Linked DNA regions of Homo sapiens. The protein of the gene in region 2 purifies or fractionates together with the protein of the main gene of each other region. This does not show direct contact. Each region holds a gene or a part of one and is shown on either strand. Other genes may lie near its edges. The genes, in order: GLB1, UNC13B and SNAP25.

What was found.
Region 1: the proteins of UNC13B (region 2) and GLB1 purify together in Homo sapiens (co-immunoprecipitation; one large-scale study listed by IntAct). This does not show direct contact.
Region 3: the proteins of UNC13B (region 2) and SNAP25 fractionate together in Homo sapiens (co-fractionation; one study listed by BioGRID). This does not show direct contact.

What each region holds. Positions count from the first base shown.
Region 1 is NC_000003.12:33,010,072-33,013,726, reverse strand, and holds part of GLB1 (beta-galactosidase isoform a preproprotein), read left to right. Parts: intron 1-3,655.
Region 2 is NC_000009.12:35,308,382-35,312,036, forward strand, and holds part of UNC13B (protein unc-13 homolog B), read left to right. Parts: coding exon 1-31; intron 32-2,085; coding exon 2,086-2,400; intron 2,401-3,655. UniProt on the Homo sapiens protein: Plays a role in vesicle maturation during exocytosis as a target of the diacylglycerol second messenger pathway.
Region 3 is NC_000020.11:10,225,241-10,228,895, reverse strand, and holds part of SNAP25 (synaptosomal-associated protein 25), read right to left. Parts: intron 2,219-3,655; exon of another isoform or gene 2,116-2,218; intron 1,610-2,115; exon of another isoform or gene 1,458-1,609; intron 1-1,457.

The DNA.
Region 1 (3,655 bases), on a different chromosome or scaffold from region 2:
GATCCCTCTGGGAGAGTCTGTCTGGTTTTCATTTATGCCAAGCCCAGTGCTCCCAGAATATCCCCACCTGCATCCAGCCCCACACCCCTGGGGCTTCTATCATAAGCTGTCTGCTTCTCCACTCTTCCTCATCCATTTTCACTTCCCAGTCACTCCGCCTTGTCGTTTGAAGACATTGGCATATCTTCCTTCACCGCCTTCTCCTCTCCCTCATGTCCTGTTTTCATCCTAGATCACCTTACCATCACTCATTCAACACACTTCTCATTCTGTGGCCACTATGTGCCCAAGGTGTGTGCCAGGCACTAAGGATACAATCATGAATAAAACCAAACATGGTCCTTTCCCTCATGGAACTTTCAGTCTAGTGAGGGAGGCAGACTCATATTAAAAAGTAAAACCATAGCTGTGATGGATGCTAAGAAGGGCTATGGGGTTGATAATAATTGGTGCATTTTGCCTTGTCAGGGAGGTCAGGGAAGCCTTCCCTAAGATAGTGATGCTTGTCAGAGATATGAAGGATGAGTAAGAATTAGCATGGCAAGAAGGGAAGAAAGCATGTTCCTGGGAGAGGTAACAGCTTGTGCAAAGGCCATGGGGTTGGAGGGGAAAATGTCAAGTGTGGAAAGTAGGTAGAGACTAGATTGGGACGGGCCTTATAGGCCACGTTAAAGTTTTGTCTTTGTGTTGAGAGCCATTGAAGCAGGAGAGTGACATGATAAGACTGTGATCTGACAAGCTCCTCTGACCCCATTGTGCAGAATGGTTTGGGTAAGGACACTTATGGATTCGAGGAAACCATCTAGGAGGCTGGACCATAGTCTCATTGAGAAACTGGGATGGTGGTATCTAAGATGGAGATGACATCAACTATTTGAGAGATGTTCAAAGTTGGATCAATAAATTGTGACAATGGATTGGACAGGAGGGTTTGGGGAGAGGGATATGTCTCGGATGACTCAGGTCTCAAGCTTGCAGCTGGGCAGAATGGTACCATTTGCTGAAAGAAGCAGCTTCAGAAGGGGACTTAGGCTTAGAAAGGGGGGTCATGAGTTTGAATTTAGACCAATTGTGTTTGAAAAGCTGCCTTAGTCTATTTGGGCTGCTATAACAAAATACCATAAGCTGGGTGGCTTATAAACAACAGGCATTTATTTCTCACAGTTCTGGAGGCTAGGAAGTCTTCAATATCAGGGCACCAGTAGATTTGCTGTCTGGTGAGAGTCTACTTCATCATAGACAGCACCCTCTATGTCCTTACATGGCTGAAGGGGCAAAGGAGCTCTCTTGGGTCTCTTTTATGAGGACACTAATTTCATTCATGAGGGCTCCACCTTCATGACCTAATCACCTCCCAGAGGGGGCCCCACCTCCTAACCCATCACATGGGGGCTAGAATTTTAACAGATGAGTTTTGGGTGGACACAAACATTCAGACCATAGCAGAGGCCTTGGAGAATGGCTGGGAAAGACAGTATTGGAGGAGGGTTGTTGGATCTATAGGCTGGGAATTCAGGGCAGGGATCTGGGCCAGGAATGTATGTAGAAGATCATTGTTGTATAGATGATTGTTGAAAACATGGGCTGGATGAGGTCTCTCAAGGAGAGAGGATGCAGAGGGAAGAAAAGAGGACGTAAGGCTGATGTTTGAGGGACAAAAACATGATGAAGACTGAAGAGGAGAGACCAAACAAGTAGGAAGAAAACCAGCATTTATGCTGCCAAGAGGACAAATAAGATAAAGACAGAAGCACTTCGGTGGTTTTAGAAGCAAGGAGGCCCTTGGGAATCAGTAAGCCTTGTTCCAGTGGAGTGAAGCATCTCCCAGCCAGATTGCATTCTATAGAGAAGACCAGGGTAAGGAATACGAACAGGAATACTTGAATATAAACGTTCTTTTTGAGAAATTTAATTCTGAAGAAGAGGAGAAAATTATGTTAATAGCTGGAGGAGGAGAAGGCAAAAGATGTACATGGTGTGTGTTTAATAAAATGCCCTTTTATTTATTTATGTGTTGCTTGTTTAAAATTTATTGAAATGTATTTTCATTATTCTGTTTGAAATATTTTCTTTTTTTTTTTTTTTTTTGAGATGGACTCTGTCACCTAGGCTGGAGTACAGTGGTGTGATCTCTGCTCACTGCAACCTCTGCCTCCCGGGCTCAAGCAATTCTCCTGCCTCAGCCTCCAGAGTAGCGGGGACTACAGGCACACACCACCACTCCTGGCTAATTTTTTTTATTATTTTTATTTTATTTTTTATTTTTTGTTTTTTTTTTATTTTTATTGGAGACGGGGTTTCATCATGTTGGCCAGGCTGATCTCGGACTCCTGACCTCAAATGAAGTCTCGAAAAGTGCTAGGATAGACATCTGAATTCATTCCAACTTATAGTTATTATAGTTATTATAATACTGCTGTAAACACTTGCATGTAAGTTTTTATGTGAACTTGGCCTCGAAAAGTGCTAGGATTACAAGTGTGAGCCACCACAGCCATCCTGTTAGAAATATTTTCTACTTTCCCATATGATTTCTTCTTTGAACCATAGATTATTAAAAAGTATGTTTTACTGGGTGTGGTGGCTCATGCCTGTAAATCCCAGCACTTTGGGAGGCCGAGACGGGTGGATCACCTGAGGCCAGGAGTTCAAGACCAGCCTGGGCAACATGGCAGAACCCCATTTCTACTAAAAATACAAAAATTAGCCAGGCGTGGTGGTGAGTAACTGTAATCTCAGCTACTTGGGAGACTGAGGTGGGAGAATCTCTCGAACCTGGAAGGCAGAGGCTGCAGTGAGCCAAGAGCATGCCACTGCACTCCAGCCTGGGTGACAAAGCAAGACTGTGTCTCAAAAACAAAACAAAAACAAACAAACAAAAAAAGTATGCTGTTTAATTTCCACATATTTTGGGTTTGTAAAAATATCTTGTAATTATTAATTTGTAACTTAATTCCTCTATAAAACTTCTAAAATTTCTCTCTAGGGAGAGAAATCTCCATGATCTTGGGTTAGGCAAAGACTTCTTAGATTTGACACCTAAGGCATTATCCTTAAAGAACAAAAATTGATAAATTGGACTTTATCAGAATTAAAAATATTTGTTCTTCAAAAAGCATTATTAGGAAAATGAGAATCCAAGCCACAAACTGGGAGAAAAATAATTTTCAAATCATATATCTAACAAAGGACTTATATCTAGAATATGTAAAGAATTCTTACAATTCAATAATAGACAAACAGCCCAGTCACAAAAGGAGCAAAGAACTTGAATAGACATTTTACCAAAGAAGGCATAAGATGGCTAAGTACATTTGCATTTGTATACCTTCTTTGGTAAAATGTCTATTATAAACTAAAATTAGTGGCTGATTAATGTTCAACATTATTAATCATTTGGGAAATGCAAGTCAAAACCAAAATGAAATACTACTTCACACTCACCAAGATGGCTAAATAGTAAGAAGGACAATAGGCAATGTTGGAAAGGACATGGGGGAAAGGGAATCTTCCCACATTGCTGGTAGAAAGATAAGAAGGTACATTTGGGAGCATAGTTTGGCAATTTCTTCAAGGGCTAAACATAGATTACCATAGAACCCAGCAATTCCGCTCCTAGGTATATACACAAGAGAAAGGAAAACATGTTCACATA
Region 2 (3,655 bases):
ATGACATCAAGGAGCCCATGACCAACAAAAGGCCTGTTCTTAACTCAAGCATCATAAATGGCTTTAAGGAATTGACCATTTATGATGCAAGTGACTTAGTGGTAGATTAATCATAGCTTGCTTTTTATCCTTCTTGTGTCTTTCCTAGTACCCGAGCTTCATGTTAATTAGGGGTTAAATAACAAGAACTCAGTGTGTGGGTATTTTCATCCTCCCCTTCTCTCTCTGCCAAATGTAATTCATTTACTGGAACAAGGAGCTTCCTGCTTAAAGCAAAAGCTGGGCCCCCGATATTTACTCACTCTGGTTTGCTCTGCCTTGTATAATGTGAAATGGAGAAAGGAGGGCAGGAAGAGGTAGTAAGTAGTTGGTGGTATATATTAACTACAACTACATGATAGGCTAGGATGCTTCCTTGGGCCTTAGGCACTTATATCTTGTAGGAGATGGGGATAGATCTATTTTGCTTTGTTTTTTCAAGTCTTCTAAGATGCTTTCTCCAGTGGCAATGAGTGTATTAAGCAAAATACAAAGTGCAAAGGATGCCTTGGGATAGTCTGTATTCCCATATCCTATTCCATACAGATTTGCATAGTTTCTTCCATGGTATCATCTCTGCCTTTTACTACCCTCAAGGCTGATGTCTGATAAATGCTTTGAGTAAAATCTCACAGGAACTCAGAGCTGTCCTTTGCTGTAGTTCTTCAGTCTCGAGCAGTGTACAGGATCTATCTGCAGAGGGTACTGTTATTTCCCCTAAGAAGCAGTACCATACAGTACAGATTAAGAATGCTACCTTGACCTCTGGCCCAAACTTGTTCAAAGGGGTTGGTCAGGGTCAGTGTGTGTGTGTGTGTGTGTGTGTGTGTGTGTGTGTGTGTGTATACTTATGTACAAGTATATGTGTTTGTGTGTTGAACTACTCAGAACAGTGACCTGGTACCTATTCTGCTGGCATGGGCTAGAGGATCAGAAATCAGCCTGAAAATACCAGGTAATTAGGAGGAACTTTAGGGAAAATCCCATTGGAAAATAACAGTGATTTCTCTTCTTTGACCAAGGGTAAACACAAGCCCTTTAGTTAAAGGCTTGACTCTGTGGTAAGAAAATTCTTCAAAAGAACTGAAGCCCTTAGATGACAGGGCCATAAAACTCAAGGAAGTAACTTCTAGATACTGCTCTTCTTTCCACCACTCTGCCCTTCTTGCCACTGTCACATTCTCTGCTATAACTGCTTTCTCTCATGACTTTCTGGATATGGGAATACAGGTGATTGAGAAAAGATTGGCTTGCTGGTCTTCAGATATAGAGATGCATGAATACGGCTCTGACCCAGATCCTGGAGTTGGACTTTGTCCACTCTTTCCAAAACTGAGCCTTGCCCTGAAAGAAGCTCAGTTACAGATGTTCATCTTTGGGACGCTTCCTATGCTGCCAGGGATATCATTGTAGCATTTATGTTGATGAGACCATTCGTTTGTGTATTCTCTTGGTCCTGGCCTCTATCTTCCAATGGGTTCTATTAACTCATCTTGCAGATGAGGAAACTGAGATGATAACTGAAAGAACATGTCTGCTCTCCTTTGCTCATCCTAAGGTACAGGCGTACACATTTACAATTGTAGAGGAAGAAATGATGACCTCAATGTAATAAGTAATAGAAAAAGAGTGGAGTTCATTCATTCCATTTTACTGTGTGGAAATTAAAGAAAGATTAATCACAGCCACTGGACAAGCTTCTTTAGAAGACTGAATAAAGAATTTTAGGAATAAGTAACAGGCCATTTTAATAATTTTTAATCCTACTCACAAATAGCCTATTAAGATAAAATATACTTCAAAGTCAAGTGCAGAACTGAGGTTAAGTGTCGTTGGAGAACCCAGCATGTTGTGTTGTTTTCCTGTTGTGTTTTCGCTGAATAGAGACTAATTCTTCTAGATTATGAAGTTTGGTCCTCTCTTCCCAGGAACCTCCTATTTGATTCTTGCTACTAATGTAGTCATTATTTCCTGGATGTCTCCTTTCTTTTGTCCTGGTCCCTGATTGCATTTATTTACTTATCTGTCTTTCTGTCATTCTCACAGCCCCACCAGCAGCAGTAGGTATGGCTCCTCCTGTAATGTGAGTCAAGGAAGCTCTCAGCTAAGTGAACTAGACCAGTATCACGAACAAGATGACGACCATCGGGAGACGGACTCGATTCATTCTTGCCACAGCTCTCACAGCCTGTCCAGAGATGGCCAAGCAGGTTTTGGAGAACAAGAGAAACCCTTGGAGGTGACAGGTCAAGCAGAGAAGGAGGCAGCATGTGAACCCAAGGAGATGAAAGAAGATGCCACAACCCACCCTCCCCCAGATCTGGTGCTGCAAAAAGACCACTTCCTAGGTCCCCAGGAGAGGTAGGCAACAGCTGCCTTGAGGAGCTCACATGGCTTCCTCAGTACCTGCCCTGTGGTATTGCTGAAAATAAGTGATTGTCATTTGTTTCCCTGCAGCTGGGTATGGTGGTAGTTAACACCTCCAGGCTCAACTCTGTATTGCTTCCTTTGATTTATGGTGCACTTTCCAAGACATTTTGGAGATCTCTGAAGAATATTTGGGTTTTTGTTTGTTTGCTTTTGAGATAGGGTCTCACTCTGTTGTCCAGGCTGGCACGATCTTGGCTCACTGCAGCCTCAACAGCCTGGTCTCAAGCAATTCTCCCACCTCAGCTTCCTGAGTAGCTGGGACTACTAGGTGTGCACCACCACACCTGGCTAATTGTATGTTTATAGAGACAAGGTTTCACCATGTTGCCCAGGCTGGTCTTGAACTCCTGAGCTCAAGCAATCCACCTGCCTCAGACTCCCAAAGTGCTGGGATTACAGCGGTGTGCCACTGCACCCAGCCAGCACTTGGGTTCTTTGTAGTTAGTGAGCTGCAGTGTACCAGGGCTTCTTGAGTCTGCAGTTCATAGCTTACTAGTTGACCTTGTATATGGCAGCCTCTGAGTCAGGAACTGACTTGAGCCAGGTTATTTCATCCACTGGGGCTGTGGTAGGTACTTTGGCTGACTTCCTAACCTATTAAGAATGCTACTTTGACCTCTGGCCCAAACTTGTTCAAAGGGGTTGGTCAGGGTCAGTGTGTGTGCATGTACTTATGTACAGGTATATGTGTATGTGTGTTGAAGTACTCAGAACAGTGACCTGGTACCTATTCTGCTGGTATGGGCTAGAGGATCAGAAATCAGCCTGAAAATACCAGGCAATTAGGAGGAACTTAGGGAAAATCCCATTGGAAAATAACAGTGATTTCTGTTGTAACTTTTTTGGTGAACATTTTGTTTTGTTTTTCCCTGGCTGAGAAACCCAGGACAGAGTTAAGAAAGAATTGATCTAGAAGTCAGATTTAACCCACCCCTCAGCCTCCTCAGGGCCTAGCAATGTGTCTGCCAATTGGTATCCATAGGAAGAAAAATTTAAAATGTATCCTCTTTAACATCTCATAATGAAGCTGAGTACAGAGTCTGAATGTTATTACTGAGCTAAATCGGTTAGACTAGCTGATAGGTTGGAGCAGAGCCAGAGTTCTCAGTCTCGGCACTCGTGACATTTTGGGCCAGATTATTCTTTGTTGTGTATATTATAGGATGTTTAATAGCATCACTGGCCT
Region 3 (3,655 bases), on a different chromosome or scaffold from region 2:
GTGATACCAAGACTTGTTTTTAAGCAAACACAACAATAAAGAGGAAAAGAAGCATATGGCCTTCATGTAACCTATAATAAAGAACCCTGGAAATCTGGTATGGCAAATAGCAGGTAACTGAACATAACAACAGTCCCTTCCTCTTTCTCAGAGTGGTGGAGGTAACTACTTCACAAGCATTAGCTCCTTTAGGTCTCACGACAACCACTTGACATATATGCATGGCAGCAATTGCTCTCCTTTTACAGATGTAAATAAAAGTGAGGCTCAGTTCAGATTAGGTAAATTGTTCAGGGTTATACAATTGAAGTGGCAGAGCTGGCATGCAGCCAGCTGACTCTCCACCCATTGCTCCATGAACTTGTTTGGACACATAGTTTCTCTGGTCACTTACACCACCATATCTCACCTGGCTATTTAGCTTGGAGGACTCAGCTTTTTAGATTTGGCTGACTCACGTTCTATGTATCAGCAGTGTGCTTTCTGTTAGAGGATCTCAATGTATTTTGTGCAACTCATGGGATAATTTATGGGGTGGTGGGGAAAACCATGGACTTTGCAGTCAGAGACAAGTGTTCCGAACTCTTTTAAGGCTGCCATGGAAAATAAAGGAAACAACATACATCAAGTGCCCAGTGCAGCACACAGTAGACATTTAGGAAGTTAGTTACTTTTTTCCTTGTGGTCATTAAGTGGTAGTATCTTCAGTCTTCTCTGGAGAAAGTTGGATGCAGAGTAACCCGTGTTTTCATGAGAAGGAATGGGGAAAAAAGATATGCAAAATTCAATGCTCAACTGGTGAAGGTTTTTTTCTAAGGACAAATGGGACTTATTTACCAAATCATGCCCAGGCTTATGATTCTCTCCCAGGCAAGAGGACACTGACTATTTGAGAGGAAAAGCCCAGAGACTGGTGTCTCTGAAGGACACTTTTAAGGAAGCGGAATTGACATGAAAAACTTGTGTCCACCATGCCAATTCTAATAGCACAGCAGCAAATATGTGACCCTGAAAACACAAGTTGGCCAAAGCCATAAATCTACCCCACTGGTGAATGTAATATATGTCTCAAATGGATGTATGAAATATCCTTTTCATCCTAGTGAACAGTAAAACATTTAAACTTATAATTCATATATGCTAAACTGCTTGACTTTAAATGCTCTTAGTGAATGGCTTTTAATCTCTGAATATAAACCTGATTTTAGCAATGCCTTTATTGAGAATCCTTTGATCCTTCGTTAGCATTTTAACTCCTGACTCATAAGTGATAAAACAACAGATTAGAATATTATACCATTTGCCATAGTTTGGCAGCTAGTTAGGGTAAACCTAAGTAATTCCTTGGGACATAATTTTATTCCAATATTTAGGATGAATCTATGTGCAAGGGTACACAACAATTCCTGAGTTATTCTGATCATAACATTTGATCAATAAAAAGCAGGATTACTTACAGTGGTAGAATTCTTTTCTCTGCAAAGGGGTAGCTGGTATCCCCATTCGCTCACTTATTTCCTGCATACATGGGTGTGGCAGGCACTGTTATAGGTACTGAAGATTCAAAGAAAGCTAAGATATTACCCTTGCTCTCAAAGACTTCCAAAGTCTATTAAGAAAGAGAAATACATAAGTAGGTAACTACAAAGCAGTGTGATCAATCTTACAAGGGAGATAGGGGCATTGCTCATTGGTAAGAGGTGAATTTCTAGAAGTAGGAGTTTGGGAAATTAAGACATAATTCTACTTGATCCAGAATCACTACATAATTCTACTTGATCCCGAATCACTGAACTTTGTTTAATGACAGGAAGTTTTCAGAGGAGGAAAGTGGATTGGATTGGGAAGTACTCTCATCCAAAGGATCCTTTCTTAGTCAACCTATTCTTGCATTGCTCCATGAGTTTTGGAGTTGGGAATAGGATTTCTGGCCCAGGAGGTACCATGTTTCTTAAAGCTTGACCCCTTCCTCCCATGAGCGGCAGAAAGTGGTCTCTACAGGGAGAGATCCCAACAGATTGGGATACTGGAATATAGTCATGTATTTAAGGGACATTTTAGTGACATCCTAGTTGATTGCCATGTAAATAGAGACAAGTTCACACAAAGACATACCTTAGATATTTACTGAGTTCGGTGATGGCTGAGGCTGGTTCTTAATATGTATTTGTTTATGATATAGCAATCTCTCTGTAGATACTGACAGCTCAGTAGAAACCTTCAATAGATTGTATATTTTGATTAGAGAGCCATAGCTCTTTTCTACATTGAATTAATGTCTTAGATTCTAAAAGGCATCCCATTGAAACATGCCTTTTAAAATAATGACACCTCAAGAGGGGACACCTAGCATAACACATGGAGGGCAGAAACATGATGATTTTATTTACAGCTCTGACTTTAGGAACCAGTGTATGTTTTCCTGGTACATGGCAGGTGTTCAATAAATATTTGTTCAATGGATTAATTAATGAAGAATGCCATAATAGCAGCTGATTTATGATGAAGCAATACATGGGCAGTGATCATGGAATTGGAAAAAGTAGATACATTCAGCAATTTCTCTGGCATAAATTAGGAATGGACTTTCCCATTAAAATAAAAAATTCACTCAACAAGGCTAATGCGTATTGAAATAGTTTGCCAGTGTTCTTCCTAGCAGTCTTTCTGGCATTTATTTCTGTGCATTTTCTGTTTATTGATAGAGAAGTCACAGTGTGATTTACCTATACCTAGCTGCCAGACCAACTTCGGAATAACTGCAGGGAAATTTAAGAAATTCACTGTTTTGGAATTTGCCAGTTATTATTCTTTGAAACTGTACCAAAGATGAACATAAATAAAGGAGATTAACAACTTGGTCTGAGACTCTTCATGGAAAGGGAACTCTGTCCAACTTGCAGGATTTTCAGAGCTCAACTGAGAAAATTCTCTGAAAAAGGAATGAGGCAGGAGTGTAGGGCTGAACTCTGGCCTCAGGGGGGCACCTAAGAGACTTTCATTTTTTTACTTGCTGTTATCAGTAAAGGACAGAAACCACTGATTCAAGGTTACAGGCATGGAAAGTCATCTCTCAAGTTCAAGATCTGTGACTAGTGTCATTTGAATAAAGGAAGTGATGGGGAAGCTGGGACCAGATGGTCATTTTGTAGAACCTGCCACTTTGGAGGAAAATAACCTTTTTCTTTAAGTAAAAATGGACCACCTTGGAAGATTAAGACACAATGAGTCAGCAGAAAGTGCCAACAGTCTCAATTTAAGACATGAGAATTAGACATCTTTGAGTAATATGAACCATATCAACAACAGCAAAGAAGAGGATGAAATATATTTTTCCACAACCAAAGAAAGCAAGCCATAAGCCCAGTACAGCTGTTATTCAGCATCATTCGGGAGCAGGCATCATTTGACTGAATTTCTCTGGAATCATTGTTAAGCATTTAGAAGGAAATGCTAATCCTTAAATAGGATTTCCCCCCATCTCTTTTTAGGGATACAGATTTGTTCTTACCAGTAAGTCAGTCACTGCTGAGGTTGACCTCTGTAGTCAACAATAAGAAAATCAGTTAGGATTTCCTCTTGTGATACCATGTTTTACCTTGGTGGAAAGACATTGAAATCTGCAGTAGGTTGTGACAAGGCGAATGTGTTTTTT